Regions from separate parts of the Homo sapiens genome. Here all the other regions are linked to region 1. Evidence: fine-mapped expression QTL. A gene starts in region 1. Each other region holds a variant in brackets. All regions are shown on one strand. Distances are from middle to middle.

The links. PIP is the estimated chance that this variant, and not a neighbour inherited with it, causes the effect.
Region 2: its variant is fine-mapped to the expression of SNAP29 in prefrontal cortex (ROSMAP, PIP 0.95).
Region 3: its variant is fine-mapped to the expression of SNAP29 in whole blood (INTERVAL, PIP above 0.99).
Region 4: its variant is fine-mapped to the expression of SNAP29 in subcutaneous fat (GTEx, PIP 0.98).
Region 5: its variant is fine-mapped to the expression of SNAP29 in uterus (GTEx, PIP 0.98).
Region 6: its variant is fine-mapped to the expression of SNAP29 in whole blood (TOPMed, PIP above 0.99).

The regions. Positions count from the first base shown.
Region 1 is chr22:20,856,670-20,861,778 of GRCh38, reverse strand. SNAP29 (synaptosome associated protein 29) reads right to left here and starts at 2,772. Exons shown (of 5, transcript NM_004782.4): 1 at 2,432-2,772. The coding sequence starts at 2,668. PI4KA (phosphatidylinositol 4-kinase alpha) reads left to right here and starts at 2,968. Exons shown (of 55, transcript NM_058004.4): 1 at 2,968-3,209. The coding sequence starts at 3,054. RefSeq lists an enhancer at 2,041-2,850 and silencers at 2,530-3,289, 3,310-3,359.
Region 2 is chr22:20,743,539-20,748,538 of GRCh38, reverse strand. It overlaps PI4KA (phosphatidylinositol 4-kinase alpha), which reads left to right. Exons shown (of 55, transcript NM_058004.4): 29 at 837-956; 30 at 3,819-3,911. Among named protein-coding and RNA genes, the nearest start is that of SERPIND1, 28 kb to the left of the region's middle. RefSeq lists a silencer at 3,187-3,236. The variant TG/G (reference allele first, on the strand shown) is at 2,500.
Region 3 is chr22:20,947,511-20,952,510 of GRCh38, reverse strand. CRKL (CRK like proto-oncogene, adaptor protein) reads right to left here. Exons shown (of 3, transcript NM_005207.4): 3 at 1-2,800. The coding sequence ends at 2,666. Among named protein-coding and RNA genes, the nearest start is that of LINC01637, 7.1 kb to the left of the region's middle. RefSeq lists enhancers at 1-490, 491-992. The variant G/A (reference allele first, on the strand shown) is at 2,981.
Region 4 is chr22:20,686,696-20,691,804 of GRCh38, reverse strand. It overlaps the pseudogene POM121L4P. Among named protein-coding and RNA genes, the nearest start is that of SERPIND1, 85 kb to the left of the region's middle. RefSeq lists a silencer at 4,643-4,863. The variant C/T (reference allele first, on the strand shown) is at 2,700.
Region 5 is chr22:20,636,388-20,641,496 of GRCh38, reverse strand. It overlaps the pseudogene LOC100421121. Among named protein-coding and RNA genes, the nearest start is that of MED15, 130 kb to the right of the region's middle. The variant A/G (reference allele first, on the strand shown) is at 2,837.
Region 6 is chr22:20,941,266-20,946,374 of GRCh38, reverse strand. All of the region lies in intron 2 of CRKL (CRK like proto-oncogene, adaptor protein), which reads right to left. Among named protein-coding and RNA genes, the nearest start is that of LINC01637, 13 kb to the left of the region's middle. The variant G/TG (reference allele first, on the strand shown) is at 2,306.

The DNA.
Region 1 (5,109 bases):
CCTGTAAGCCCAGCTACTCAGGAGGTTGAGGCAGGAGAATCGCTTGACCTGGGAGGCAGAGGTAGCAGTGAGCTGAGATCGCGCCACTGAACTCTAGCCTGGGAGACAGAGCAAGACTCCGTCTCAAAAACAAAAAACACCAAAAAAACAAAAACAAAAACAAAAACAAAAAAATTAGCCAGGTGTTGTAGCAGGTGCCTCTAATCCCAGCTACTTGGGAGGTTGAGGCAGGAGAATCATTTGAACTGGGGAGGTGGAGGTTGCAGTGAGCCGAGATCACACCATCGCACTCCAGCCTGGGTGACAGAGTAAGACTTTGTCTCAAACAAAACAAAAATAAAAAACCAACAGTTAAACACAGGGAGGTGGGCTAGGTGCAGTGGCTCACGCCTATAATCCCAGGACTTTGGGAGGCCGAGGTGGTGGATCACGAGGTCAAGAGATCGAGACCATCCTGGCCAACATGGCAAAACCCCAACTCTATTAATACCAAAATTAGCTGGGTGTGGTAGTGCACGCCTTAGTCCCAGCTACTCAGGAGGCTGAGGCAGGAGAATCACTTGAACCCAGGAGGCGGAGGCTGTAGTGAGCCAAGTTGGTGCCACTGCACTCCAGTCTGGTGACAGAGCGAGAATCTGTCTCAAAAAAAAAAAAAAAAAACCACAGGGAGGTGGATCAATGAGGGATACATGAACAGAGAGAGGTGGGGAAGGGAATTAACCCAAGAAAACAGCAAGGGGAAATGATAGCGTGTTGCTCTGTCGCCCAAGCTGGAGTGCAGTGGTATGAACATGGCTCACTGCAACCTTGACATCCTGGGCTCAAGCGGTCCTCCTGCCTCAGCCTCCTCAGTAGCTGCACTCACATGTGTGTGCCACCATGCCTGGCTAATTTTTCAAATTTTGTAGAGACGCAGTTACCCCTGCTGGTCTCAAACTCCTGGGCTAAAATGATCTGCCTACCTCAGCCTTACAAATTGTTGGGATTACAGAAGTACAACCGCGCCTGGCTTATACATTTTTTTAAACCTTTTTTTTTCTCTGTCCAAACAAAACTGTTTCATTAGCAGGCTGAAGAGAGACTGTGGTGTACAATAAAGAATCATTCTCGACCGGTATGGTGGCTCACGCCTGTAATCCCAGCCCTTTGGGAGGCCAAAGCGGGCGGACTGCCTGAGGTCAGGAGTTCCAGACCAGCCTGGCCAACGGGGCAAAACCCTGTCTCCACTACAAATACAAAAAAAATTAGCCGGGTGTGGCGGCGCACCTGTAGTCCCAGCTACTCGGGAGGCTGAGGCAGGAGAATCGTCTGAATCCCGGAGGCGGAAGTTGCAGTGAGCCCAGATCATGCCACTGTACCCAAGCAAGGGCGACAGAGCGAGATTCCATCTCAAAAAAAAAAAAAAAAGAAAAAGAAAAAGACCCTCCAGGATCTCGGTCTGTTGCCCATGCTGGAGTGCAGCAGCACGATCTCAGCTAACTGCAACCTCTGCCTCCCGGGTACAAGCGATTCTCCTACCTCAGCCTCCTGAGTAGCTGCGACTACAGGCGCACCGCCACACCCGGCTAGTTTTTTTTTTTTTTTAATTTTAGTGGAGACAGGGTTTCACCATGTTGCCCAGGCGGGTCTCGAACTCCTGAGCTCAGGCGATCCGACGCCTAGGCCTCCCAAAGTGCTGGGATTACAGGCGTGAGTCACTGCGCTCGGCCAGAATAATTGTTATTGAAGGTACTACTCTCTGAAATCTAAGGATGGGAAGAACTGATGAAGATGAGTTGGAGCAACAAACTCTTAACCCGCACACTATTTGTCTAGGATTTGGGAAGTAAAGGTAAGACCCTGGACTCAATCAAACCCAGGCTTTGGTCAACTAGGCAGCTGTCTGGGCTGAAGGGACTTCAATACCTCTATTGGTTGGTTAGGTGGAGATGTCAATGATGCGGGAAGAACTCGTGGACCACCTGCCCTGATGCTTCAGGGTATCACCTGACACTCGCAGGCACATAGTCCTCTCTTTCTGGCTCACTCCGGAAGGAATGGCCAAAACCCTGTGCCAGATTTTGCACAGGAAATAATGTCGAAGAAACGGACTCTCCATTTCCCAAACCTAGGACCTGCTGTTCAGAATTTTTACTCACCTGGACAGAAAATAATCTGGCGTTTCCCCGTGAGCTAGGCGTAAGAAAAAAAAAATCAACGAAGCAGACTAATAGCTAAGGAAGATTTCTGGGGTAAACTGCCCTCTTCAAGTACTCCAGATGCACATACCTTTACATAGTTAACAGATTGTTACCACCATCGAGTCACTAAGGTGCAAGAATCTATGCTAGGCAACTTGAGAATTCTCAAAAGATTGTGAGCAAAACATTTCTCGTCTCCGTTTGACAGCACAGAGACCGGCGAGTCCACACCAGCCCTGCCCCAGGCTCACCTCGGAAGAGGCGACCCCAACCTTCTCGGACTCGTACATGAGGGCCAGGGACCTGCTGGTGCTGGCGGCCGTGGCCTCAGCCCTGCGGAGGACCTCCTGCCGCAAGTACTGCTGCCTGTCCGCGGGCGCGTCGGGCCCGTCGGGGAGGTCTCGGGCGTCCCTCCAAGGGGCCGGCCGGGCGCCTTCGTCCTCCCCGTCGTCGTCGAACGGATTGTAGCTTTTAGGGTAAGCTGACATGGTGCCGGCGCGGCTCTCGGTCTGGGAAACAGAAGGAGGAGCCCCACTGCCGCCGCCGTCCAGGGCCTCGCCCCGCCCGCCGACCCCGCGGTCGTCGCGCGAACTCCTTCCGCGCGTCGCGCGCAGGTGGCCCCGCCCTCGGAGCCGACCATCGCGCAGGTCGGCTGGGGGGGGCCCACATCCGGCGCGCGCAACCGCAGCCTACTGTCCATCCCCTCTCTCCCCTGCAGCGGTGGGCCCGCCCCGCAGCCACGCCCTATCTAGTGTCAGCAACTGAGAGGTCACGTGGCGGGAAAGCCGGATGCACCTACGCCTGCGCCCTGAGGTCGGGCGCTCGCGGGCCAGGAGCGGGGAGCCGGCGGGCAGCGCCGCGGCTCGTGAGGTGATGGCGGCGGCCCCGGCCCGGGGAGGCGGAGGCGGAGGCGGAGGCGGCGGCGGCTGCTCCGGCTCCGGCTCCAGCGCCTCGCGGGGCTTCTATTTCAACACGGTCCTGTCACTGGCCCGCTCCCTGGCGGTGCAGAGACCAGCATCCTTGGAGAAGGTAACGTCGGCGGGCTGGGCCGCGGGCTGACAGGAGGAGGGGCTGGGGTGACGAAGCGTGGAGGCGGGACGAGGGTCTGTGGGAGGCCGAGGCTGGGCTCGCCGGCAGCCTGTGCGGGAGGGGGCGCCTGAGCGGAGGGATCTAGCGGGGGAAGGAGGCCCTAGTGGGAGGGGCTGGTGAAGAGAGAGGGACCGTGGGGGAAGGGTCGGCGGGGCCTGCAGGGCCGCTGCAGGTGGGTGGTTGTGGGATGGGGGTGGGGGATGTGAGCTGCTGGCCCAGGGAGCATCTTGTGACATCGCGGAGGTGGAGGCTGGATCGTGGGCGGCTGTGCGGAGCAGTGGGATGAGCCGAGGACCAGGGGTCAAGACCTGGGGTTCTGCTTCCGATTTCACCTGCTTTTTATTCCGCGACCTTGGGAAGATGGCTTTCTTGTAAAATGGGGATGCTTTTATCTGCTTTGCCGGCTTCACCGGACTGTGGTGACCAGGAGACGAAACACTGTCTTGAAAGTGCTTTGTGACTGTAAACCAACTGCGCAGTGTTATTCTACGAGGCTGGGGGCGTTAGGTTGGGTAAAAGATTGTGCGTTTGCAGAAGGGACAGTGGCAGGGAAAGGAGAGTGAACTGTCAGTGGGCAGAGAAGTGAACTTGGAATTGCTTCAGAAGAGAAAGGTGAAGTCATGCCAGAGCAATCCTCATCTTGGGAGAAAGGTGAAAGGCAACTCAGTGGTGTGCCTTGAGATCTGGAAAGAGACAGATTTTAGAGTGGGACCTGAATTTGTTCCCTGCACTGGCACTTACTTACCATGTCCTCTTGGGTAAATTTAACTCTTAGAGCCTCTGTATCCTTATCTGTAAAATGAGGTTGTTCTTGAGAATTAAATGAGTTCTAGCATAAAGCATCTTGCACAGGTCAAGGCACAGAGTGGGTGAGCAGTAAATGTCAACTTTCTTTGCCCACCCGTGTGCGATGAGACTCAGCACAGTGTTTAGCTCTGAAAGGATGGAATTATTTTCCCACTCAACTTTTTGGCACATGGAGAGAGGATGTTTTCCGACAAGATAAGACAGTGGTGACCGGAGACCAGCCTGCTGCAGTTGGGAGTGGTTTTGTGGCTGTCTGCTGATGGATGAAGCTGAAAGGCTGTTTTAGGCACTTTTGGCAGAGTGACCTGGTCCTTGGCCTTGTCGGTTCTCATATTTGATTTTATCATGCACCTTCGGGGTGAGAAGGTCCCGGCAGATTGGTGCTAACCTGACTTCTAGCTAAAGAGGGAGTACAATGCAATGGAAAGGACATGAGTTTGGAAAATGGAACCTCTGAATTTAAATCCTGTATCACTTGCTTTCACTAGTGTGACTCTAGACAGGTCAGTTCCCTTCTCTGATACTTTGCTATCTTCTGTCAAATACAAGGTAGTACTTCATAGGAGTATTGTGAAGAGCAACAAAAAGGCACGTGGGTACCTAATGTATGAGCACTGTTATCATTAGATAGTCTGACTAATGGAGTGTAGTGCTGTTTTATTGAATCAAACTCATGCTAGCTAGTCAGCACATTCGCTTCTTAGCAGGAGAGCCAACAAATATATCTTATGACTGATTGCTGGATTCTGGGAGGAGAGAGAAGAGAATGCAGTGAATTGGATGATCTTTAAGAAGCTGGTCCTGCAGCTCCAGCAGTGGTAGCACCCTTTCCACTCAGTAACTCAGAAAAGGGCACCTTGAGCTCAATTTGCTTCTTCAGCCATGTTCACTAGTCACGAGAACATTCTGTAATTGCAACATTCTTAGCTTTGTAGTAATAACTGCTTCAGTTGTCAAGATTATATTTTATGATGGGGCACGGTGGCTCATGCCTGTAATCCCAGCACTTTGGGAGGCTGAGACAGGCAGATCA
Region 2 (5,000 bases), 110 kb after region 1:
AGAGCAGGAGGCCTCCCTCACACCCCTGGGCTCTGCCAGGTATCCCATTGCCCAGCACCCTTCTCCCACTGGGTGGCCAGGTGGACACAGGTGTTGTTCTTCGTTCCTGCTGTCCAGTTCACCCACACCAGGCTGCTGGTATGCTGCAGTAGAGAACCGAGGCTCCACACCACACAGCCTGCCTGTTGACCGCAAGGCCAAGGCTTTGTAGCTTATTTGCCTGGTGGCTACCACAGCAGATGCTCAGCAAGGATGTGCTGAAAGAATAAATGGCCCTCTCCCATTGACGGTGCAACACCGCAGTGACTGCATGACAGCCGCTCGGGGAATTGGCCTTGTCCTCAGTCAAATGAGCAGTAGCTGGTCATAGAGGGGCTTTGACTTACTGACAGTCCCACAGCTAGTTAGGGAGGGGCAGACCCAGGACAGAAACCCAGTGTTTGGTCCATTTGCCCACACCTTAATTTATAAAGTTTTATTTTCCCCTTTAAATGAAATAGCAAGGCCAGGCACAGTGGCTCATGCCTGTAATCCTGACATTTTGGGATGCTGAGGCGGGAGGATCACTTGAGCCCAGGAATTCAAGCCAACCTGAGCAATATAGTGAGACACCATCTCTACAAAAAAAATTGCAAAATTAGCCAGGCATAGTGGCGTGCCCCTATAGTCCCAGCTACTTGGGAAGCTGAGGCGGGAGGATGGCTTGAGTCTAAGAGGTCGAGGCTGCAATGAGCCATGATCGTGCCACCACACTCCAGCCTGGGTGACAGAGCGAGACCCTGCCTCTAAAAAAATCAGATAAATAACTGAAACCCCATGTGTTTTTCCTATTTCAGGAATATCTGAACAAACATCAGAACTGGGTATCGGGACTGTCCCAGCACACGGGGCTGGCCATGGCCACTGAGAGCATCCTTCACTTTGCTGGCTACAACAAGCAGAACACAACTCTTGGGGTATGTGCGAGCCTTCTGAAGAGCAGTGACCCCTTAGACCATAGGAGCCACAGTGCAGGGGAAGGCTTAGAGCTCGGCTGTCGCTTTTCATGACGCACATGAGTACATGCAGGGTGCTGTGGATGTCTGTTGACAATGGTAGTGGTGCAAGCCGCACCTTGGCCCAAAGAAGAGGTGGCCATTGAAATGAGTGTTTCCTTATTGTGCTTTTTTTTTTTTAAATTTATGGATTTATGGGGATCAGTGCTTGATATGTCAGTGATCAGATTTTGATTTGAATGTCCCCATCTGAGAGGATGGAAACAGAGCTCCGCCTGACACGGGCAGCGCGATGCCACAGTTGCACTTATCTGGAGCGTATACTGGACTCCTGAACAGTTCTGTTTTCTGCAGGTGCTGAACCGCACATGAATGCCTTCAGCTTCTTGTTCTGCTAGAGATTAATCTAGAGGACAGAGGGTTCACACAGCAATACTTTCTGAGTTAAATTAGAGCTAAGAGTTAAAAAGGATTAAAGCAGGCAGTTCCACCTGGCCATGTGACTGGGGCTGGTCAGAGATTTTGTTGGTTAATGTGAATCTAGAGCCTGGCCATGTGTGCTTCCCAACTCTCTCCAAATGGAGCATGGGATGGGATATGTGGAGGTGCAGAGGCTGTGTACCCAGGAGGAAGGGTGACAGGCCTCCCTTGGGATACCGGCGGGAGAGAGGGGCCTGAGTGCCCTCTGGCTTTTGTGGGGCCTGAGGATGTGCCAGAGAATGCTGGTGTCTTCTCGCCTCATTTTGCTATCAGGGCACTCTCCTCGAGGTCACTGCACTATCTCTAAAGACACCAGTCTAGCAGACATGGTTGAGCTGGGTCCAGCCTGCACCTGCAGGGCCACCCGCCCTGGGCCTCCTACTCTGACGGGGCACCAGGTATCAGTGCCCTGACCTGGACGTCTCTGCCACTGGGTGGCCACAGAGGCCAGAGGCGGAACTCATAGACTGTAAGTGTTTATGATAGTCATAAGCCTTTTCCTTTTTGGGGGTGGTAGGAGCAAAGCTTTATTACATAAAATAGAATATGTGTTCTCATTTGTAAGCCTTTTCTAGACTCTAGCCAGCTGACTTGTGAAAGATCTGTTTTGCCTAAAATATTTTGTTCTTTTTCCCCAGAAAATTTGATGTAAGTTAGGTTTTCTCTAAGTTATTTTTTTTAATTTTTAAAAATTAATTCTGGGGCCAGGCACGGTGGCTCATGCCTGTAATCCCAGCACTTTGGGAGGCCAAGGCGGGCGGATCACGAGGTCAGTGGATCGAGACCATCCTGGCCAACACGGTGAAACCCCGTCTCTACTAAAAATACAAAAAATTAGCCGGGCATGGTGGCAGGCGCCTGTAGTCCCAGCTACTTGGGAGGCTGAGGCAGGAGAATGGTGTGAACCCGGGAGGCGGAGCTTGCAGTGAGCCGAGATCCCGCCACTGCACTCCAGCCTGGGCAACAGAGCAAGACTCCATCTCAAAAAAAAAAAAAAAAAAATTCTTTTTTTTTTTTTTTTTTT[TG/G]ATGAAACCCCATCTCTAGTAAAAATACAAAAATTAGCCAGGCGTGGTGACATGCACCTGTAATCCCAGCTACTCGGGAGGCTGAGGCAGGAGAATCACTTGAACCAGGGAGGTGGAGGCTGCAGTGAGCCGAGATCGCATTGGGCAGTGAGGAGTGATGGTGGAAGGGAGGGAGCCGGCCTGCACTGCCCACCAGGTGCTGTTTGCCATGCCAGGACATTGTGTGTGTCATTACGTTGAACGTGTAACAACATTGTGAGAGGGTTATGCCCACTTTACAGATGAGCACATTGAGGCTCAGAGACATTGACTTCCCAAGGTCTCACAGCTGATTAGTATCAGAGCCAAGCTCTAACTCAGTCCTGCTTGGTGCCAAAGACCGCATTGTTTCCAGAAAATGTAAAGCAGTTTCACGTAATTTATTTTTTTAAATAAACCAGTTTAATAATTTCATGAGAGAAATCATGTATTTTTGTTCTTGTTTATATTTTGATGTTCCCCAACATCTGTATTTTCTTCTCCTGGTCCTCTTTCTCCACACCATGTCCCCTCAAAAAAAAATCCCTCTAAACTCAAAACAGTTGAGAAGCTCACTTTCCCCATTAGTACTGATGCTAAAGGGAAATGCGAAAGGAGGTCCTTTTCAATGCATGCTGTACTCTGCAGTGACCGTGGATGAACAGGAACTGAAAGGTGTGGCACAGCAGCCAGCCTGGGTTAGGAAGCCAGGTCACTGAGGCCCTGGGGCTGGGAGGCTGAGGCTGAAGCAGAGAGAGTGGCTGGAGGGGTGGAGTGGGTGGGCGGTAGTTTTCAAATATTTTTCTCCCATTCTGTGGGTTGCCTTTGTATTCAAGGTGTACCCTTTTCTGTCTCTTCCCATTAGACTGAAGAGCAGCCAGCAGATGTTTAAGAGCCTGCTGGCCTTGGCTCTCCCCTTCAGCCCCTTTACGGTCTGTAAGTGACATTTATAAGCTGCACACGCAACTCTCAAGGAGACGGCTGTGAATGCTTTCATGGCGTTTCCATCACAGGTGACATTGCTCTCACAATCTAGTGATTCTTTTTCTTGCAAAGGCCTATTTACCAGTAGCAGAAACTGCCTTCCAGAGACTTTTTTTTTTAATTTCTTATGGAACATATCAAACTGCTGGGTATTCTAAAATATTTTGCTTTATTAACTTGCCAGCAGTGAAGATTTTTATTAATAGTAACCCCCAGACCCGAGTGTGACTGCTTCATTGGGTTTAGGCTTAGCCATGGTAAACACGAGGAAAGGATAGTGCTGCCATAGTCTACAATAATGGTTATCTGTCTGTAGGCAACTCAGCTGAGCGAGCGCCCGGCCTGTGTGAAGAAAGACTACTCCAACTTCATGGCATCCCTGAATCTGCGCAACCGCTACGCGGGCGAGGTGCTTCTCTTGTCCTTGCGCCCTAGGGCCTTTAACGTGTCCTCTTGTTTTGAGGCCTGTTGGCCGCTTCCTAGTGGAAAATGAACAAAGCGTCCCGGTGATGTGGAATTAACATATTTTAGGAGGATTTAAAGAGCACATTTTAGGAGGATTCTTGGCACATTCCAGAGTGTTAATGACCAGTTACTTGTTTTTTCCACAAGAGGGTAACTCTGTGTACACTTTGGCTACACTGAATGAAGGTTTTTAATTTTTTTGGCTTTTTTTTACAGCAGTAACAAACACTTACATGCCATAGGCTCTTGGGCACTCGGTAAGATGTATGTATTATTATTCCAGTTTTATAGATAAACGGAGGTTCCCAAGATTAAGTAACTTGCCAAAGTCGCACAAGTGGAGTGGGGTCTGGAACCACATCTTCCAACTCCACATCGTGGGCTTTCACCCACCACACCACAGTTTATTCCAGCCTCACCAGTGCCATCACATCTGTGGGCCTCCATTTCCTGCTCCATAAACTCAGAAGCTAATCTATACCATTTCTTTTTGTTTGTTTGTTTTTGTTTTTGTTTTTGAGACAGAGTCTCGTTCTGTTGCCCAGGCTGGAGTGCAGTGGCACAATCTTGGCTCACTGCAAGCTCTGCCTCCTGGGTTCACGCCATTCTCCTGCCTCAGCCTCCCGAGTAGCTGGGACTACAGGCACCCACCACCACGCCCGGCTAATTTTTTGTATTTTTAGTGGAGACGGGGTTTCACTGTGTTAGCCAGGACGGTCTTGATCTCCTGACCTCATGATCTGCCCGCCTCGGCCTCCCAAACTGCTGGGATTACAGGCGTGAGCCACCGCGCCCAGCCTAGTCTATGCCATTTCTAAGCTCCCTGGTGACTCTGAAAGTCTATCAGTGGCCTGGTCTGAGTGGGAGTTCACTCCTTCTTAGCACTCTGTCACTTGTATGTTCTTCTCTCTGGAAAAAAAAGTTATATTTGTCTTTAAAAATAGATAGGTTGGCCAAGCACAGTGGCTCACGCCAGTAATCCCAGCACTTTGGGAGGCTGAGACAGGAGGATCACCTGAGCCCAGGAGTTCGA
Region 3 (5,000 bases), 91 kb before region 1:
CATTAAAAAAACTGACAAGGTTGTAAGTCCGTTAAGTTTTACTAGTTTTGGCACATATCTGGAGTGCAGAACTCAAGCTCGCCTTGTTTTGAGCTCTGAATCTCCTGGCAGCCCTGGATGCCATTTTCATGGGCTGAAGTAACGAGCTGATTAATTATAAAACCAAACCACAGGTATACTCTAGGTATATCTGATTCTGAAGTGCGCCACACAAGGTGAGTCGGGGTATTGGTCAGTAGACAGGGCTGAAAGGAAACCTTGCTTTCCAAAATGGCCAGACTTCTTGCACTCTGAGTCAACTGCTGTAATTCAAAGGTGTCAAGCCCTTCAGCTAAATCTGGTTGAAAAAGGCCTAAGGGTCGTGCCCTCCTTGAACAAGGCACACATTCCTCCCTCTGTTGGAAACTCCACTCATGGCTCAACATGGGCCGGGATGAACCACGTCACTGGCCAAAGGGCAAACACTGTTTCTAGGCAGAGTCTGGGGACTCTTGTGATATGTCTGCCACTTGTGGGTGCTACGCCAGGCCTGAACCCAAAATAAGCCAACCTGACACACCTAACCAGAAGCGGCAACTGCCGCAGACCGTGCAGAGCAGGAGGCGGTCACCGTTCTCACTGGCAAGGAAGGGCTAATCTCCAAGGCTTTTAGAGGAAAACCACAGATGGGAAGCCATGGCGATAGTTTTCCCAAATGACCATTAATTCTGTCTCAGGAACACTCTCAAGATTCATGAATACAGCAGTTATCTGCCTGATGGAATACTGATTTAAAGAAAAATTGAAAAATGGCTGTTCTGCTGGTTCTGTCTCCAGAATGCATTGCTCTAAATCTCAAAACCTAGGAACCTCCAGACAGGGCCACAGTCACAGCAGATGATCAGTAAATGAAAGCTACTCAGTAGGCTGCTGCTACATTTCTAGGTCTGCTGTGTTCACTATGAGCTGAGGCTTTTCTTTACCAGGGTCCACAAGGGAGAGCAGACTGAATTGCACAGGGTTCCCAGAATTCTAGTCTGCTATGTGCAGCAGATGATGGATGAACCACACGTATATACCAGTTGGCTTGTATGAACAGGCCTCTTTTAGCTAACAGGGAAATGCTTTAACATCAATACACTGATAAGTGGTTAATGATAAACTAGTTAATGGTCTCCCTAGTCACTAAAACACTAAGACATCAAATACATTAACGAATTTCCAGAGCTTGCATTTCCTTTGCTTGGGAGCATCACAGACACTTACTTAGACTGTGAGACCAGTATGAGCAGCACCAACTTTCTCTGGCAGCCTGACGAGATTGGGCCTGGGCACGGAGGTCTGGGCTTCAGTGAGTGGAGTTGAACGATTCATTAATGAGTCCAACGATTCTATGAACAACGCCACTTTTTAAGGAAGTTTAAGTCTGAACCTTAAAGGGGTACATTCACTGAAAAGCTGAACAGAAAACTGGCCAAGTGCCCTCCAACCCACTGCTCTTATCACTGGCAAAACAAGGTAAGCAAAGGTTTCCCTAAAGTACCCCCAACTCTGATGCTTTTTAAAACAAAGTAATCCAAGGGGCTGTGCACATAGCATGGCACACCACAACTGCATTATTTTGTGTGTTGTCTGCTACATGGCAAAACAAGGTACTACTGGCAACCAAGACAATAAAGGCCTCTGCTTCAGGGTTGTTCTTTTCAGATTCCTTTAGTTACAGCAGCTTCAGTTTAGAAGCTCAGAGGCATGAGTCATTCCTTGCACTATCATAAAAACCCAACCTGCTACTTAACCTGTTTAGAACACACAAGTCTAGGCCAGGCGCGGCGGCTCACGGCTGTAATCCCAGCACGTTGGGAGGCTGAAGGCGGGTGGATCACCTGAAGTCAGGAGTTTGAGACCAGCCTGGTCAACATGATGAAACCCCGTCTCTACTAAAAATACAAAAATTAGCTGGGCGTGGTGTGCGCGCCTGCAGTCCCAGCTACTTGGGAGGCTGAGGCAGGAGAATCGCTTGAACTCAGGAGGCGGAGACTGCAGGAAGGCGAGATTGCGCCACTGCACTCCAGCCTGGGTGATGCAGCGAGACACCGTCTCAAAAAAACAAAACAAAACAAACAAAACAAAACAAAAAAAAACCCCCACACAAGTCTAATTAATTAGTTTTCCAAAACCAAACCAAAACAAAAGAAAAAAAAAAGCCAGATTTTGGAGTTTTAGAACAGAATTCTCTCTTCCTTAAGGTTCACTTCCTGTTGTCCAAAGAAAAGCAAGATGGCAGCTAAGCCACTGCTTTGTGGAACAGCAAACATGCAGTATCTCGCCATGGCCTCAAGCTTTCTCTGGTGAACACAACAGAATCAGTCCCATGTACAAACGGGCAGCAATGAGAAGGAAGACCCTTTCCATGTCAACTTCTCTCCACTTGTGTGCTTCCATCAGTATTTCCAGTTTATGATCCAAAAGAACTCTAAAATCGGCTACTCTTTGACAATACGACTATGATACAAACATCAGGAGGCAGCCGCTGTGTGCATTCCAAATGTGTGTGCGACTGCCAGTCTGCAGAAAGCTGGACTTCGGCAATGCAGTGTGACTTGCCTATGAGAGAAAATGCTTTCCCACTTCAAAGGAGACTAGGACAGGCAGAACAACAAAGCAGCAGGAAACAGGGCAACAGCAATCACTCGTTTTCATCTGGGTTTTGAGGGTCAAAGATTTTGACGTGCGTAAAGGGGAAAAGCCCTTTGCGCCCGTTCACTTCGCCTTCCCACTGGCCATTTATATTCATCCTTGTGACTTTCACGATGTCACCAACCTGTATGGATGAAGAAGACAAAGTTAGCATTTCTCTGCAACAAGAAAAAGACAGTTTACATTAAATCACAAACACTACCTTATCCAAAGGGCCCATACATTATTATTTAGACACAGGGTCTCACTCTGTTAGCCATGCTGGAGTGTAGTGGTGAGATCCCTGCTCAATGTAACCTCTAAC[G/A]CCTGGGCTCAAGTGATCCTTCCACCTCCACCTCTTGAATAGCTGTGACTACAGGCGTGCACCACCATGCACATTATTTTTTAATTTTTTATAGACGGGGTCTGTCGCCCAGGCTGGAATGCAGTGGCCCGATTACAGCTCATTGTAACCTTGAACTCCTGGGATTACTTGAGGTCAGGAGTTCGAGACCAGCCTGGGCAACATGGTGAAACCTCATCTCTTCTAAAAAATAGAAAAATTAGCCGGGTGTGGTGGTACATGACTGCAGTCCCAACTACTCAGGAGGCTGAAGTGAGAGGATGGCTTGAGCCCATGAGGCTGAGGCTGCAGTGAGCCGTGATAGTGCCACGGCACCCCAGACTGGGCAACCGAGTGAGACCCTGTCTCAAAAAAACAAAAATCAAAACACACACACACACAGAAACAGCTTTTGAGCACAAAGCAGCTCCCCACCCCACACCAACCTTCTATTTTGGCCACTAACCCCAACAGGATAGAAATGAACACATGATTCTGAGAATGGTTAAAGTCAAATTACACAAAAAGGTGTATTTTAAAAAAAGACCTTCAGGTGGTAGTCATTGTAGACAGGGTGTTACTCTGTTCAGCAGAGCACTAATCTAAGGTTCTGTATTGTGTACTTAGGTCCATAAAAACGCTACTTGAATATAAGACCCACCTAAGATCTAAGACAATAAGAAATAAGCTTTTGTCTGCTTAAACACATATAGAACCAGGCATCGTGGTACATGCCTCTAGTTCCAGGTCCTTGGCAGACTGAGGTGGGAGGACTGCTTGAGCCCAGGAGTTTGAGACCAGCCGGCGCAACGCAGCAAGACTACATCTCAAAATAAAAACAGGCATAAGGTTTTTATGGCACAGTCCAATGGTCCGTGCCATGAACTTTGGAGCATGCAGGACACCAAACAAATGTCCTGGTTCTGCCACTTTTAGAAACTACATGACTGTAGCAAACTGCTTAAGTTCTCCAAGTCTCAGTTTCCTTCCAACTTTGAAAGGTTCTTGCAGTAATTAAATGATTGTTACTTGAGTAGAGATTCCTGAATAGAACCCATCCCCCAACCCCACGCCCCCTCTAATGATCATACCCTTTGGATGCACGAAGGGAAGAGCTGGAATTAGCACTGAGAAGCACAACACTGTATATATCAGAGGATTTCCAACCTTGTCACCAACAAGGGTCCTCTCAAAACCAATGAGGAACAGGCTGAAAACGGGGTCTAATAAATGACTGTGATGGATACTAAGCAGCCAAAGAAGACTACGGGAAGATTAAAGATGAGGCTAAGGATTGAAAGCTGCCAAGAACACTCACACCTCACGCCTTCCAATTAACTTGTGAGTCTGGCGGTCTTCAACAGGATACTTTCTACATGATCCTACCTAATCAATTAAATAAATTTACTGAACATCTACTCCATGGAAAATGGGCAGGTCAGTTCGTATCCTTAAAAAACTTCTGTCTTTTGAGTGGGATACACAATGAATCTTTGTCAGATAATAACATAGTGTGAAAAGCACAAAGTGGCCGGGCGCAGTGGCTCACACCTGTAATCCCAGCACTTTGGGAAGCTGAAGTGGGTGGATCACTTGAGCCCAGGAGTTCAAGACCAGCCTGGGCAACACAGTGAAACCCTGTCTCTAAAATACAAAAATGAGCCAGGCGTGGTGGCATGCACCTGCAGTCCCAGCTACTTGGGAGAATGAGGTGCGAAGATCGTTTAAGCGCAGGAGGCAGAGGTTGCAGGGGTGCAGTAAGCTGTGATCACACTACTGCACTCCAGCCTGGGTGACAGAGCAAGACCCTGTCTCAAAAAAAAAAAAAAAAAAAAATGAAAAAAAGAAAAAAGAAAAGAAAAGAAAAGAAAAAGCCTAGGCGCAGTGGCTCACATCTGTAATCCCAACACTTTGGGAGGCCAAGGCAGATGGATCACCTGAGGTCAGGAGTTCGAGACCAGCATGGCCAACACGGCAAAACCTCATCTCTACTGAAAAATAC
Region 4 (5,109 bases), 170 kb after region 1:
CTGGGTGCTTTAGAAATGGCAGGCAGACCAGAAGCCCCTGTAGCAAGTGAGGACAAAGTGTGGGAAGGCCGTGAGGGTCTGCAGTCCGAGATGGCCTTGTCCTCAACCTGCAGTGCACTGTTGATGCGCTGGAATGCCGCCTCCTTCTCCCGGTCCAGGTCTTCAGCAGTGACCCAGTACCCCAGCTCTAAGGGAGGTGGCAGCATCAAAGGCTCCCCTCGCCTGCGTGGCAGCAGGGGAAACTTGTGTCTACGGGGCCTAGAGGACTGGGATCTGGGGGAGCCACCCCTGGGGCCGAGTGTCTGCCCTGGTGCTGTATCTGCCGTCTTTTCACACTGGGTGTGACCCGAAGAGACAGCCTCAGGTCCGTCCTCACTCACTGTGTTTGAGGAACTGAGGGTCAGCTGGCAGTGGGATGAGGCTGGCGCCTCTTCCGCTTTCGTCCCGGGAGGTCTCCCGTAGAGCTGCAGGAGCTCGAGATGGCATTTCGTTTGGGGCACGAGCTGGTCCGGGAGGTCTGGGATCTCTGGTTCTGACCTCTGGGCACCTGCTGCAGCTGTGGCTGAGGCCCAGAAATGTGAAGGGCCTCCATCCACTCCAATAGTGACCCCAATGTGCGGTTCAATGTGGAGGGGGGAGGGGCTGCTGCGGCAGCTGCAGGAGCAGAAGTGCCAGGCCTTGTTCTTCTCATGCCCGCATCCATGCTTGCAGCTGGGAAGGGGGCAGGAATCAGCGAGGTGACCTGGGCTGAGTCCTGGGAGTGGGAAGAGGTGGCAGGAAGGGGATCTGAGGAGGAGAACAGGGGGCCTGGTGGTCTGTGCTTCTCCCCAGACATGGGAGCTGTAGAGGGGACCTCTGTAGCAGATGCTAGGGGGGCCACTAGGCCCAGGCAGTCTTGGGACTTGTGTCTCTCCTGCTGTGCATCCATACTGGGTGCTTTAGAAACGGCAGGCAGACCAGAAGCCCCTGTTGCAAGTGAGGACAAAGTGTGGGAAGGCCGTGAGGGTCTGCAGTCTGAGATGGCCTTGTCCTCAACCTGCAGTGCACTCTTGATGCACTGGAATGCCGCCTCCTTCTCCCAGTCCAGGTCTTCAGCAGTGACCCGGTACCCCAGCTCTACGGGAGGTGGCAGCATCAAAGGCTCCCCTCGCCTGTGTGGCAGCAGGGGAAACTTGCGTGTACTGGGCCTAGAGGCCTCGGATCTGGAGGAGTCATTCCTGAGGGCGAGTGTCTGCCCTGGTGCTTTCTCTGCCACCTTTTCACACTGGGTGTGACCCGAAGAGACAGCCTGAGGCCTGTCCTCACTCACTGTCTTTGAGGAACTGAGGGTCAGCTGGCAGTGGGATGAGGCTGGCCCCCTCCTCCGCTTTAGCCCCGGCAAGCCTCCCGTGGAGCTGTAGGAGCTGGAGATGGCATTTCGGTTGGTGCACGAGCTCGTCCAGGAGGTCTGGGATGACTGGTCATATCTGATTTCTGACCTCTGGGCATGGAGGTCTGTCTGCAGAGGCCCGGGCCCGGGCACAAAGGGAGAGAGGCCTCCATTGTCCCGCAGGGGCCGAAATGCAGACGGTGCATCCCCGGTGACCTCGGGGACCCTTCTCTGATCACCAGGATTCTCTTGGACTCTAGGGTCCTTGTCCTGCTCAGGCATCCCTGCCCCGCTCTCCTTGAGGGCCCTCAACACTATCTTCCCTGGACACAAGTCTGGGGACAGCCGGCTGTTGTGGACCCCAAAGGGGTGACTCCCAGCTCCTGGGCCCCACAGAGAGTCCATGTTCTCAGTGCAGTGGCTGAGCTGGAGGACGCCCTGGAACTCGGAGCACACAGCACTGGCTTGCTGTGGTACCTGTGCAATCAAATTGAAGGCAGGATCCCAGAAAGGAAGGCAGGGCTTGCAGGATCACGGAAAACCTTCTTAGAGTTGTCTTGACACCACGGATGTCAAGTGTCCGGGTGCTTGTAGGATGGCCTGCCACTCAGTCCACGGGCAGGAGCAACGGGGAGATCCCACAGGCAAAGTGAACTGGGGGATGGGCTGAACGGGCTCCAGGCAACTGAGCCCTACTGGCAGGTCCTCGGCCTGGGCCCGAACAGGAAGGAGGGGCACAGAGTGCCCAGGTAACCGCTCCTGGGAGCAGTGGGGAACCGTCGGTTGCTTGAACTCTCGAGAGCTGGGCTCTGAGCGTCCTCGTCCAGCCGCCAACTCGGCCAACGGCTAAGCCAGCAGTTTCTTCTGTTGCCGGGCAACGCGCCTTTTAAACCTGAGGGAGCGGGCGCGTGAGCACATCACGGCGCCCGTGACAGAGCGAGCTTAACGGATTAATAAGCGCAGCCAGGTACCCGCGCGAGGCACTTGCTGGCAATGGCGGGAGGCGGACGTGGGGGGTCATGCAATAGGTACTGGAAGGAGAGAGGCGGGCACAAAGGTCGCGGGAGGAACAGGTGCCCACAATGGCGGCAGATCTGCCCGTGGATCACTGAAGATTCCTGCTCTCCTGCTGAGGTGGAGATTGCAGTGAGCTGAGATCGCACCATTGCACTCCAGCCTGGGCAACAAGTGCAAAACTCAGTCTTCAAATAAAAAAAAGAAAAAGAAAAACAAAAGGCCGGGCGTGGCGGCTTATGCCTATAATCCTAGCACTTTGGGAGGTCGGGGCGGACGGATCACGAGATCAGGAGTTGGAGACCAGCCTGGCCAA[C/T]ATAGTGAAACCCCCTTTCTAGTAAAAATACAAATTTAGTCAGACATGGTGGCACGCGCCTGTAGTCCCAGCTACTCCGGCGGCTGAGACTGGAGAATCACTTGAACCCGGGGGCTGGGAAGGGATTGCGATGCGCCGAGATCGCGCCACTGCACTCCAACCTGGGCAACAGAGTCAGAGTCTTTTTTTTTTTTCTTTTTTTTTTTTTGAGACGGAGTCTCCCTCTGTCGCCCAGGCTGGATTCCAGTGGCCTGATCTCTGGGCTCACCGCAAGCTCCGCCTACCGGGTTCACGCCATTCTCCTGCCTCAGCCTCGGGAGTAGCTCGGACTACAGGCGCCCGCCACCACACCCGGCTGCTTTTTTGTATTTTTAGTAGAGACGGGGTTTCACCGTGTTAGCCAGGATGGCCTCGACCTCCTGACCTCGTGATCCGCCCGCCTCGGCCTCCCAAAGTGCTGGGATTAAAGGCGTGAGCCACCGCGCCCGGCCGAGACTCTGTCTTAAAAAAAAAAAGGCCGGGGCTGTGGCACTTTGGGAGGCGGAGGCGGGTGGATCACGAGGTCAGGAGTTGGAGACCAGCCTGGCCAACATAGCGAAACCCCGTCTCTACTAAAACTACAAAAAATTAGCCGGGCGTGGTGGCGGGCGCCTGTAGTCCCAGCTACTCTGGAGGCTGAGGCAGGAGAATGGCGTGAACTCGGGAGGCGGAGCTTGCAGTCACCCGAGATCTCACCACTGCACTCCAGCCTGGGTGACAGTGCGAACCTCCGTCTCAAAAAAAAAAAAAAAAAAAGAGAGAGAGAGACACAGAGAAAAATGTTTATTGACTTAATGCACTTTTATGCCTGTGTTCTTCAATTTGCTTAGGAAAGACCTACACTTGAGAGCTGGGACTGTGGCCGATTGTGGACATGAAATATATGGTTTCTTGCAAAAACTAGACACTGAATAATTACGATTTAGTTGAGCTAGAAATCCATTTGGTTTCTTCCATATTTTTCCAAAATTTTCATCCTTTTTTTTTTAATTTTGAGACGGAGTTTCGCTGTTGTCTCCCAGGCTGGAGTGCAATGGCGCGATCTCAGCACCTGCTGGCAATGGCGGGAGGCTAGGGGACGCTGGCTTGATAGGTACTGGAAGGAGAGGCGCGCGCACAAAAGACTTGGGAAGACCTGGCGCGCACAATGGCTGCAGATCCGCCAGTGGATCACTGAAGATTCCTGCTCTCCTGCTGAGGCGGGGATTGCAGTGAACTGAGATCGCACCATTGCACTCTAGCCTGGGCAACAAGAGGGAAACTCCATCTCACACACACACACACCAAAAAAAAAAAAAAAAAAAAAAAAACACACAAAGAAAAGAAAAAGTAGTGGCCAGGCGTGGCGGCTCACACATCCCAGCACTTTGGGAGATTGGGGCGGGCGGATCACGAGATCAGGAGTTGGAGACCAGCCTGGCCAACATAGTGAAACCCTGTCTCTACTAAAATACAAAAATTAACCAGACATGGTGGCACGCGGCTGTAGTCCCAGCTACTGGTGTGGCTGAGGCAGGAGAATCACTTGAACCCGGGAGGCGGAGGTTGCGGTGTGCCGAGATCGCGCCACTGCACTCCAGCCTGGGCTACAAAGCGAGACTTCCTGTCAAAAATAAATAATTAATTTTTAAAAATTATGTAGAAGATAAAAACTTTATGTTCTTTTTAATGTTTGCTGTCCATAAAATCATCTGGGCCTGGTGCTTTTCTTTGGTTTTGTTTTTTTGTGAGATTTTTGAGGGGATGGGATACAGATTTTTTTTTTTTTTTGAGACGGAGTCTTGCTCTGTTGCCCAGGCTGGAGTGCAGTGGCACCACCTCGGCTCACTGCCACCTCCGCCTCCCGGGTTCACGCCGTTCTCCTGCCTCAGCCTCTGGAGTAGCTGGGACTACAGGCACCCGCCACCAGGGCCGGCTAATTTTTTGTATTTTTAGTAGAGATGGGGTTTCACCGTGTTAGCCAGGATGGTCTCGATCTCCTGACCTTGTGATCCGCCCACCTCGGCCTCCCAGAGTGCTGGGATTACAGGCGTGAGCCACCGCACCCGGCCGGGATACAGATTTTAAAATAAACATTCAATTCCTTTAATGGTTCTAGATCTAGACAAACTTTTCTGCTTCTCCCTACTTTGTTTTTATGAAGTTATATTTTTCTTTTGAGACAGAATTTCTCTGTTGCAGTCACGCGATCTCGGCTCACTGCAACCTCCGCCTCCCAGGTTCAAGTGATTCTCCCGCCTCAGCCTCCCAAGTAGCTGGGGTTACAAGCATGTTCTACCACACCCAGCTAATTTTTGTATTTTTAGTAGAGTTGGGGTTTTACTATGCTTGCCAGGCTGGTCTCGAACTCCTGAGGTCAGGTGATCTGCCA
Region 5 (5,109 bases), 220 kb after region 1:
AAATAACAGTAGCGCCTGCTTTCTTGGGTTGTGGCGAGACTGAGTTATGCAAACTCTGCTAACAGCTCCCTGGCACATAGTGTGTACTGTGTAAGTATTAGCTATTAGATCATCGTGGTCATCATCATCATCATCATTGCTATGATTGACCCTCCTGTTAGAATTTAGTCCCCAGGCTGCAAAATGTCCAGGGTTCTCACTGGGAATTGAGGATGAAATGGCTGGGGAACGCCAGAAGGAAAGGGCACAGCCAGAGCAAACAGCACGGGCTGGCGTTTGCTGAGGCACTTTGCCTAACACCCTCCAGGTGACAGGGTGTGACAGATAAGGGGTGGCACATTGGTAGGTGTGCTTTTGAGGCAGGACCATCATTGAAAGCAAGCTGCCCCCTCAGTATCTCTCTCCCTGGTTCCTGACTTACTGGGGCCTTTTTAATCCAGCTGCAATTTTGTTTTATTTTTATCTGATTTTGTTTTATTTATTTATTTATTTATTTTGAGACAGAGTTTCATTCTGTCAATCAGGCTGGAGTGCAGTGGCGCGATCTCGGCTCACTGCAACCTCTGCCTCCCAGGCTCAAGCAATTCTCCTGCCTCAGCCTCCCAAGTAGCTGGGATTACAGGGGTGTGCCACCATGCCCGGCTAATTTTTGTGTTTTTGGTAGAGACGGGGTTTCACCATGTTGGCCAGGATGGCTGACCTCAGGCAATCCACCGGCCTCGGCCTCCCAAAGTGCTGGGATTACAGGCGTGAGCCACCACGCCCAGCCGATTTTATTTTTTAGAGACAAGATCTTGGCTCACTGCAGCCTTGACCTCCTAGGCTTAAGCAATCCTCCCACCTTAGCCTCCCAAGTAGCTGAGACTGCAGGCACACGCCACCACACCCAGCTAAGTTTGCTTATTTTTTGTAGAGTCTGGGTTTCACTGTGTTGCCCAGGCTAGTCCAGAACTCCTGGGTTCAAGCAATCCACCCACCTCAGCCTCTTAAAGCACTGGGATTACAGGCGTGAGCCACTGTGCCCGGCCGGCCCTCTTTTTAAAAAAATTTGTAATAGATATACTGTAGTTGTACATATTTTGGGGGTGCATGTAGTATTTTGATAGATCCACTGCGTATTGATCTATCACGTTTGAGGTGATTGGAACATCCATCACCTCAAACATTTATGTTTTCTTCATGTTGGGAACTTTACAGTTCTTCTAGCTATTTTGAGATATACAATAAATTACTGTTAATTATATTTTTCCTACTATAATATACAAGAACTTAATTCCATCTAACTGGATTTTTGTACCATTAACCAACTTCTCTTCATTCCCCTCCTACTCTTCCCTTCCCAGCCACTGGTAACCACCAGTCTACTCTCCGCATTCATGAGAAATACTTTTTTAGCTTCCATGTATGACTGAGAACATGTGATATTTGTCTTTCTGTGCCTCACTTTTTTTACTTAACATAATGATTTTCAGTTCCATTCATGTTACTGCACGTGACAGGATTTCATCCTTTTTCATGGCTGAGTAATATTCCATTGCATACATATACCACATTTCCTTTAACTGTCAATTCATTGATGGACACTTAGGTTGATTCTGTACTATTCCTCCACACATAGGTTGATTTTGTACTATCGTTAATGGTGCTGCAGTAAACATGGGCATGCAGATAACTGTTTGATGTACTGATTTCCTTTCTTTTGGATGAATACCTGTATTCAGCTGATATTTGAAAGAAAGTTGTCCACATCTCACAGTGTCTTTCTCTGTGTATGGATTGGAGGCAGACAAAGGCACAGCAAGGCCACAGAGTCATTGGCCACCTTCTTTCCTGTCCCTTCTCTGCCTCCAGCCTATCAATTAAATGTTTTGGCTTCCAGCAGAGGAGGATGGCATCACCCTGACTGTGGCTGAGCAAGGTGATAAGACTTCCCTAGGGTTGTAGAGCTATTAAGCCATTCAGCCAGCAAGTGACATCAAGCCTTGCCTTCCTTGTGAAGAAAAGGAGGGGTTAAAAAGTAGCTGAGCATGATGGCACATGCCTGTAGTCCCAGCTACTCAGGAGGCTGAGATGGGAGGATTGCTCGAGCACGGGAGGCTTAGGCTGAAGTGAGCCATGATCACGCCACTGCACTCCAGCCTGGGTGACAGCGAGACCGTCTCAGAAAAATAAAAAAATAAAGATGGGAGTGTGGGACAGCACTTTGGGGACTCCATAAGACAGGGCAAAGGGTATCAGGTGGTAGATGATGATGCTTTTCTTTCCTCTCCTGACAGGGCTTACCTACTGCAGACACCTGTCCACTGAGAGGACCCACTTGTCATCCCTGGTCAATTACATGATCATGTCTCTGGACTTGCCCTGTGATGCTGGACAGGAGCTGACAGCCGGGATCTGGGAGCAATACCTTCAGGATAGCACAGCAAGGTTTAGCTGGGCTTGATCTGCAGTGGTGTAGAGGCTGCAAAGGAGGGGCGATTTTGTTATGTGAGAAATAAGCCCACCTACTTGTGGGGACTCAAGATGACTTGTTTGGATTCTGCATATGCAAATTGAAGATCTCCTCCTCTTCTTGAGAGTTCCAAGACCCACAACTCACTTTTGCCCGTGAGTGTGGAGATTGAAGGGGATGGAAAACATGCTCACCTGGGATGAATAAAGAGAAAGTCAGTGAGTAAGTATTTATTATGAAGCATTAGTTTGTATCACTCCTGCACAAGGTGCTGAGACATGGCCCCAGCCAGAAGGAATTTACAGTCCAGTCAAAACTGCCTAGAAGTGTGACAGCAGCTGAGTTGGAGGGAGGCAGCTGAACCAAGAAAACCTTATCAGCACT[A/G]TTTGAAACTTTTATCTCATCTGGCTTGGCGCCTGAGGTTCTCCCATTAGGTAAGTCACCTGGAATGCTTTCTAATATTTTCTTATAAGAATACAAATGTTCCTGGAAGGAAAATGTTTATGCTTGAAAAGAGTCTCATAATCAAATAGTTTGGGGAAGTTTAAGTTAAACAGGTATCCTGAAGGATATCTTAGAACCTTGGCTATTCTGGTATTCTTGTCACTCTCAGGAAATTGAAGGCGTGTGGGAGAGCATATGGAACATTCCTTCAAATGCATTTGGTCATAGAAGCCTTTACTGGAAAATACCTCCCATGGCTAGTAAAAAGCAAAAATGACTGAGAAGCACTGGTTTATCTCTGCCAAGAACAAAATCTAGGAGGAGGTACCTGTTTCCTCCACACTGGGTAAATCTAGTGGCCCAATCTGCTGTGCACCTTCCCACCCAGGTGCGTTCTGGGGAGGGTTGAGCTGGTTGAGTGTATCAAGAGTTGATTCCTTTGGATGGCTGAGTGCTATTCCATAAGATGGATGTAGCACAGTTTAACTGTTCACCTGCTGATGGATGGCTGAGTTATTTCTAGATTTTTGGCTATTGCTATTAAAGCTGTAATGAACATTCACGTACGGTTGTTTGTATGAGCACAGGTTGTCATTTCTCTGGGATAGATGAGTCAGAATGTAATTGCTAGGTCATACGGTAGTTCCATGTTCAGTCGTATAAGAAACTGCCAAACATCAACAGTAGCATGTGCCTTTAGTCCCAGCTACTCTGGAGGCTGAGGCGAGAGGATCACTTTAGCCCAGGAATTTGAGTCCAGCCTGGGCAATATAGGGAGACCCTGTCTCTAAAGAGAAAAAAGAGACTGCCACACTTTTGCAGTGGCTGTGGTATTTTATATGCCCACCAGCAATATATGAGTGATTCACACTTATATCTTCAGCAGAGTTTTGTCTTGTCACTATTTTTTATTTTAGCCACTCTGATGTGTGTAAATTATATTTCATTGTGGTTTTAATTTGCATTTCCCAAATGGCTAGTGAAGTTGAAGATCTTTTCATGGGCTTATTTGTCCATTGTGTATCATCTCTGGTGAAATGTCTGCTCGTGTCTTTTGCCCATCTTCTAATTGGATTGTTTGATTTTTTGTGTGGAGTTTGCAAGTTCCTTATATACTCAAGATAACAGTGCTTTGTTCATATATGTTGTTTGAAAATATTTTCTCCTAGTCTGTAACTTGTCATCTTTTTAACAAGGTGTTTTGCAGAACAAATTTTTAAATTTTGATGAAACTTAGCTTAGCAATTTTTCCTTTTGTAGACTATGTTTTTGGTGTCAAGTCTAAGAAAATTTTGCCTAGTCCTAGCTCCTGAAGATCTTCTCCTACATTTTATCCTACAGGGAGGCACCTGCAGCTGGGCTGGCTTTCCAGCTATTTTAAGCCTCAGGGAATCTTGGTTTCTCCAGGCCAGCTGTGCTGGGGATGAGGTGCCTGAGCTCATGGGGAGACCAACATGGGCAGGGGGCTGACCCGAGGCTAACTGGGGCTGGAACAGCCTGAGATGACAACAACCAAGGACAGAGACAAAATAGAATATCCATTTTCCATCTGAATGTCTCTCCAGCCACCCAGAAAGTCAATTTCCATTATTATGAACCTAGCTTCACAGAGGGGAAACTGAGGCTGAACCCGAGCCTCCAGCTCCAGCCACAGGCCTGGCCCAGTCAGGGCTCCTCAGCCCCTGGCCGCCTCCAGTCTTGGGACATCGCTCCTCCTGAGACCCCAGACAGGTGCTCTCTACTCCCCACTCTCTGCCTTATTTCTCCCCAGCACAAACCCCATCTCCTACACCACATCGCTCCCTTGTCTATTGGGTTGATTTACATCTCCCCCAAATACGAGTTCTCCGAGCCTGGCTGTGCCTACCTTGCCCCTTGCTGTGTTCCATGAGCAGGAGGTGCTCCCTTGTCTGACCAGGGTCCCCTGAGAAGTGGGCCCATCTGGCTGGTCTGGGGTCTCACCTTCTTCAACCACTCTGCCCAGGAGCCCCGGGACCCAGCACCCCTTCCTTTCAGAGCTGCTCCGTGCCCCCGGGCCCTCACAGCCTTCCTGTCTCCTGTGGGTGCCCTGGCCAGGCCTGGCTGGTGGGTCATCCTAACCATGGGCTACTCTGTCCTCAGAGTGGACATGGGGCATCTGATGGCCCCAGCTCTGTGACACAGGCCACAGAAGTCACCCAGTCCCTCACTGGCTCTTGTACTTGCCTCATCGA
Region 6 (5,109 bases), 85 kb before region 1:
TATGTCTACCAAGAGTTAAATGGCAAGAGGGTACCTCTTGCTGCTGGCAATAGTTTCCTACAGCCCTACTTGTCCAGAGTGTTGTCCAGGAAATGACTCTACTGACTGGCATCTGGCACTTGATTCAAAGAGCAGTCAACGCACTGGAGGGCCCAAGCACTGGTCGTCACAGCAGTTTTTTGGTTCCATAATCAGTCTCCGCTCCCTGTACTGATAGGCTGAGATTGTATGCTTTCAGGTTACATAAAAGTAAGATCAGGAGTACACTGGTGACACTGGAATCATAAATTCTAACTTGAGTGATGTGAATGGGTCTCAGTGATCAAAGAACATCCTGCGAAGTTGTATGCAAATACATGAATGTATGCTGTTTTTCTGAAGACTGCACAACTTTCACTGGATTCTCAAAGGGGCTTATAGCCCCCAAAATATCTAAAACAAAACAAAGCCCATGTACTATAATCACCAGACAGGTATCATCCTGCTCTCTGTGGCTTTTATTCCTCTAGTCATTCAACAAATATTGAACATCTATGTGTAGGCCGTGAAGAGATACAACAGAGGACACAAAGGAGACAAACACCCCTGGCCCTCACGGAGCTGCATGGGTCCACTGCCTGCCCCTGTGTTCTCTGTGCACCTGCACCTGAATCAGAGTAGCCAGAGAGATAGAGGCTTTAAGAGGGCTAGGCTCCCTGTCTGTGTGCCCTGGCTAGCAGTCAAGTAATCTCATACACTCAAACCCACAACTGAATGCTATCTAATAGGGTTTTAATACTGAAGACTTGGTCTCTTTCTTAAAATTACCACTATCCTTCAGAGTAGTAACTTGATTCAAGAGGGCTGTTTACTGGTTAACACAGAGATTTTATTTGGGAAAGGTAGGGGGCGGGGCTAAAGGTATCACAGGCCAGTATGCTGTGGTACAAGAGTATGTGGGCTTTTGGAAAAGAGGAAGTCAAGACACGATCATATATATAAGAAAAGATACAAATTCAGCAAAGTCGCAGGGTACGAGATCAACACATAGATATCAGTTGCGTCTTATATATTGGTAATGAATAATTAAGAAAGTAATTCCAAGCCGGGTGCGGTGGCTCATGCCTGTAATCCCAGCACTTTGGGAGGCCGAGGCAGGCAGATCAGGAGGTCAGGAGATCGAGACCATCCTGGCTAATACCGTGAAACCCCGTCTCTACTAAAAATACAAAAAATTAGCCGGGCGTGGTAGGAGGCGCCTGTAGTCCCAGCTACTTGGGAGGCTGAGTCAGGAGAATGGCGTGCACCCGGGAGGTGGCGCTTGCAGTGAGCCAAGATCACACCACTGCACTCCAGCCCGGGTGATAGAGCGAAACTCCATCCCAAAAAAAAAGAAAGAAAGTAATTCCAGGCAGGGCACGGTAGCTCATGCCTGAATCCTAGCACTTTGGGAGGCGCCAAGATCATGCTGGGCAACATGGTAAAACCCCAATTCTACTAAAATACAAAAAAAAGTTAGCTGGGCGTGGTGGCAGGCACCTGTAGTCCCAGCTACTCAGGAGGCTGAGGCACAAGAATTGTGCCACTGCACTCTAGCCTGGGCAATGGAGCGGGAGTGAGGCTCTGTCTCCAAGAAGAAAAAAAAAAAAGTGATTCCATTTACAATAGCATCTAAAATAAAAATATCCAAGAATAGGCTGTGCGGTGGCTCATGCCTGTAATCCCAGCACTTTGGGAGGCCGAGGCAGGTGGATCACGAGGTCAAGAGATCGAGACCATCCTGGCCAACATAGTGAAACCCCATCTCTACTAAAAATACAAAAATTAGCTGGGCATGGTGGCGCATGTCTGTAGTCCCAGCTACTTGGGAGGCTGAGGCAGGAGAATCGCTTGAACCAGGGAGGTGGAGGTTGCAGTGAGCCGAGATTGCACCACTGCACTCCAGCCTGGTGACAAAGCCAAGACTCTGTCTAAACAAAACAAAACAAAACGAGAATAATTTAACCATGGTGAAACACTTGCATACCAAAAATTATTAAAGACCTAAATAAATGCAAAAACATTTGTGTTAATGGATGGAAAGACTTATGATTAAGATATTAATATTGGCTAGGTGCAGTGGCTCACACCTGTAATGCCAGCACTTTGGGAGGCTGAGACAGGAGGATCACTTGAGCCCAGGAGTTTGAGACCAGTCTGGGCAACATAGTGAGACCCTGCCTCATAAAAGAAATTAAAAAAAAAAAAAAAAAAAAAGCTAATACTACCCAAAGTGATCTACAAATACAACACAATCCCTATCAAAATTCTAACAGCCTTTTTTTTT[G/TG]CAGCAATGGGAAAACCAATCCTCAAATTCATATAGAATTGCGAGGAACCTGAATAGCCAAAACAACCTTGAAAAGCATCAAAGTTAGAGGACTTACACTTCCTTGACTTCAAAATTACTACAAAAAGCTATAGTAATCAACAGTGTGGTGCTGGCATATGGAGAGACATATAGAACAATGGAATAGAACTCAGAGGTCAAAAATAAACCCACACATTTATGATCAAGTGATTTTTTTTTAACACGTGGGAGTCTCACTATGTAGCCCAGGCTGATCTTCAACTCCTAGGCTCAAGCAATCTTCTCACCTCAGTCTCCAGGGTACCTGGGATTACAGGTGTGCACCACCACACCCAGCTTGGCCAACTGATTTTTGACTAGGGTGCCAAGTCTATTCAACAGGGAAAGAATAACCTTGCTGGGACAACTGCACCAATTTCCACATGCAAAAGAAAGACTCTGAAACCTTACCTCACACTATACACAAAAAGTCATTTAAAATGGATCAACAGCCTAAATACAATAACTAAGGTCAGGCATGGTGGCGCACGCCTGTAATCCTGGCACTTTGGGAGGCCAAGGCAGGTGGATCACCTCACTTTAGGAGTCCAGAAGAGCCTGGCCAACATGGTAAAACCCCATCTCTACTAAAAATACAAAAAATTAGCGGGGTATGGTGGTGAGTGCCTGTAATCCTGGCTATTTGGGAGGCTGAGGCAGGAGAATTGCTTGAATCTGGAAGGCAGAAGTTGCAGTGAGTCGAGATCGTGAGTGCCATTGTACTCCAGCCAGGGCGACAGAGTGAGACTCTGTCTCAAAAAATATAAAACAAAATAAAAAACAAAAACGCTCAAATAACCCAATTAAAAAATGGGCAAAGAACTTGAAAATATTTATCCAAAGATTTGCCAAAAGCCAATATGAAAAGATGCTCAACATCAGTCACTAGGAACATGCAAATCAAAACCACAATGACATACCACTTCACACCTACTAGGATGGCTATAATAAAAAATATGGAAAATAACAAGTGTTGATGAGGATGTGGAAGAATTTTTTTTTGGCGGTGAAGAAGGGAGCCCTTATATACTGCTGGTTGGAATGGAATATGGTACAGCTGCTATGGAAAATAGTTTGACAGTTCCTCAAAAAGCTAAACATAGGAGGCTCATGCCTATAATCCCAGCACTTTGGGAGGCTGAGGTGAGCGATCAGTTGAGGTCAGGAGTTCAAAGCCTGGCTAACATGGCAAAACCCTGTCTCTACTAAAAAATACAAAAATTAGCCAGGTGTGGTGGCACGTGCCTATAATCCCAGCTACTCAGGAGGCTGAGGCAGGAGAAATCGCTTGAACCCAGGAGATGGAGGTTGCAGTGAGCCGAGATGGTGCCACTGCACTCCAGCCTGGGCAACAGAGCAAAACTCCGTTTCAAAAAAAAAAAGCTAAACACAGAATTACCCATTTGACCCAGAAATCCACTCTGAGATATATAACCAAAATAACTGAAAGCAAGGACTCAAACATTTGTGTGTCAATGTCCACTGCAGCATTATTCACCATAGCCAAAATAACGAAAACAACTCAAGTATCCATCAAGAGATAAATGGATTAACAAAACGTGATATATACATAACAATGGAATATTATTCAGCCCTAAAGGAATGAAGTCTTTATCATAATTTCCTGTACAGATGGAGTCTCACTATGTTGCCCAGGCTGGTCTCAAACTCCTTGCCTCAAGTGATCTTCCCACCTTGGCCTTTCAAAGCACTGGGATTACAGGTGTGAGTCACCCCATGCTGGGACAAGAAATGAAGTTTTGATATATGCTACAATCTGGATGAACTCTGAAAACATTGTACCCAATGAAATAATTCAGACCCAAAGGACAAATATTGTATCATTTTACTTATATCAGGTAGGTAGAATAGGTAAATTCATAGACAGAAGGTAGATAGTTGGCAAACTATATAAACCTCAAGCTCTTAGTGTGGGAGCAGTCATGAGAATAAACTTCTCTCTGTGAACCCCTAGCTGATGGTTCTTCTTACTCAACAGCTATCACCAGAGAACAGCTATCACAGAAAACAGAGGTCAGCCTAATGACCAGGATGGGACAGGCCCTGCCTGAACCACACCAGGGCCCCAATTCCATGGCATTCTGACTTAATTTACACATTAGGAAAGAGGAACAAAAACCTTTTAAAAATATTTTTTTCTGGGCCGGGTGCAGTGGCTCACGTTGTCAGGAGTTCAAGAGCAGCCTAGCCAAGGTGGTGAAACCCCATCTCTACTAGAAATACAAAAACTAGCCCGGCCTGGTGGCGGGCACCTGTAATCCCAGCTACTCGGGAGGCTGAGGCAGAGAACTGCTTGAACCCGGGAGGCAGAGGTTGCAGTGAGCTGATATCATGCCACTGCACTCCAGCCTGGGTGACAGAGCAAGACTCTATCTCAAAAAAAAAAAAAAAAAAAAAAAATATATATATACACACACACACACACACACACACACACACACACACACACATAAAATATATATATATATACACATACACAAACACACATATGTATATATTTTTAAATACGAGAATATTCTAAAGGACTTTCTAAAGATTCCTACATTTGCATGGTATTATAGTCAAGGAAAAAAAGCACTTTTGGTACTAAAGAAATAAAGCTGAGATGCTGTGAAGGACAACTGACACAATGTCAAAGACAGAAGGGTGGAGGAGGATCCTGGTCAGTCCTGATGAAAGGTCCAAGGAGGCAAGTGGAAATGATTCCTCGGGCACCAGACATC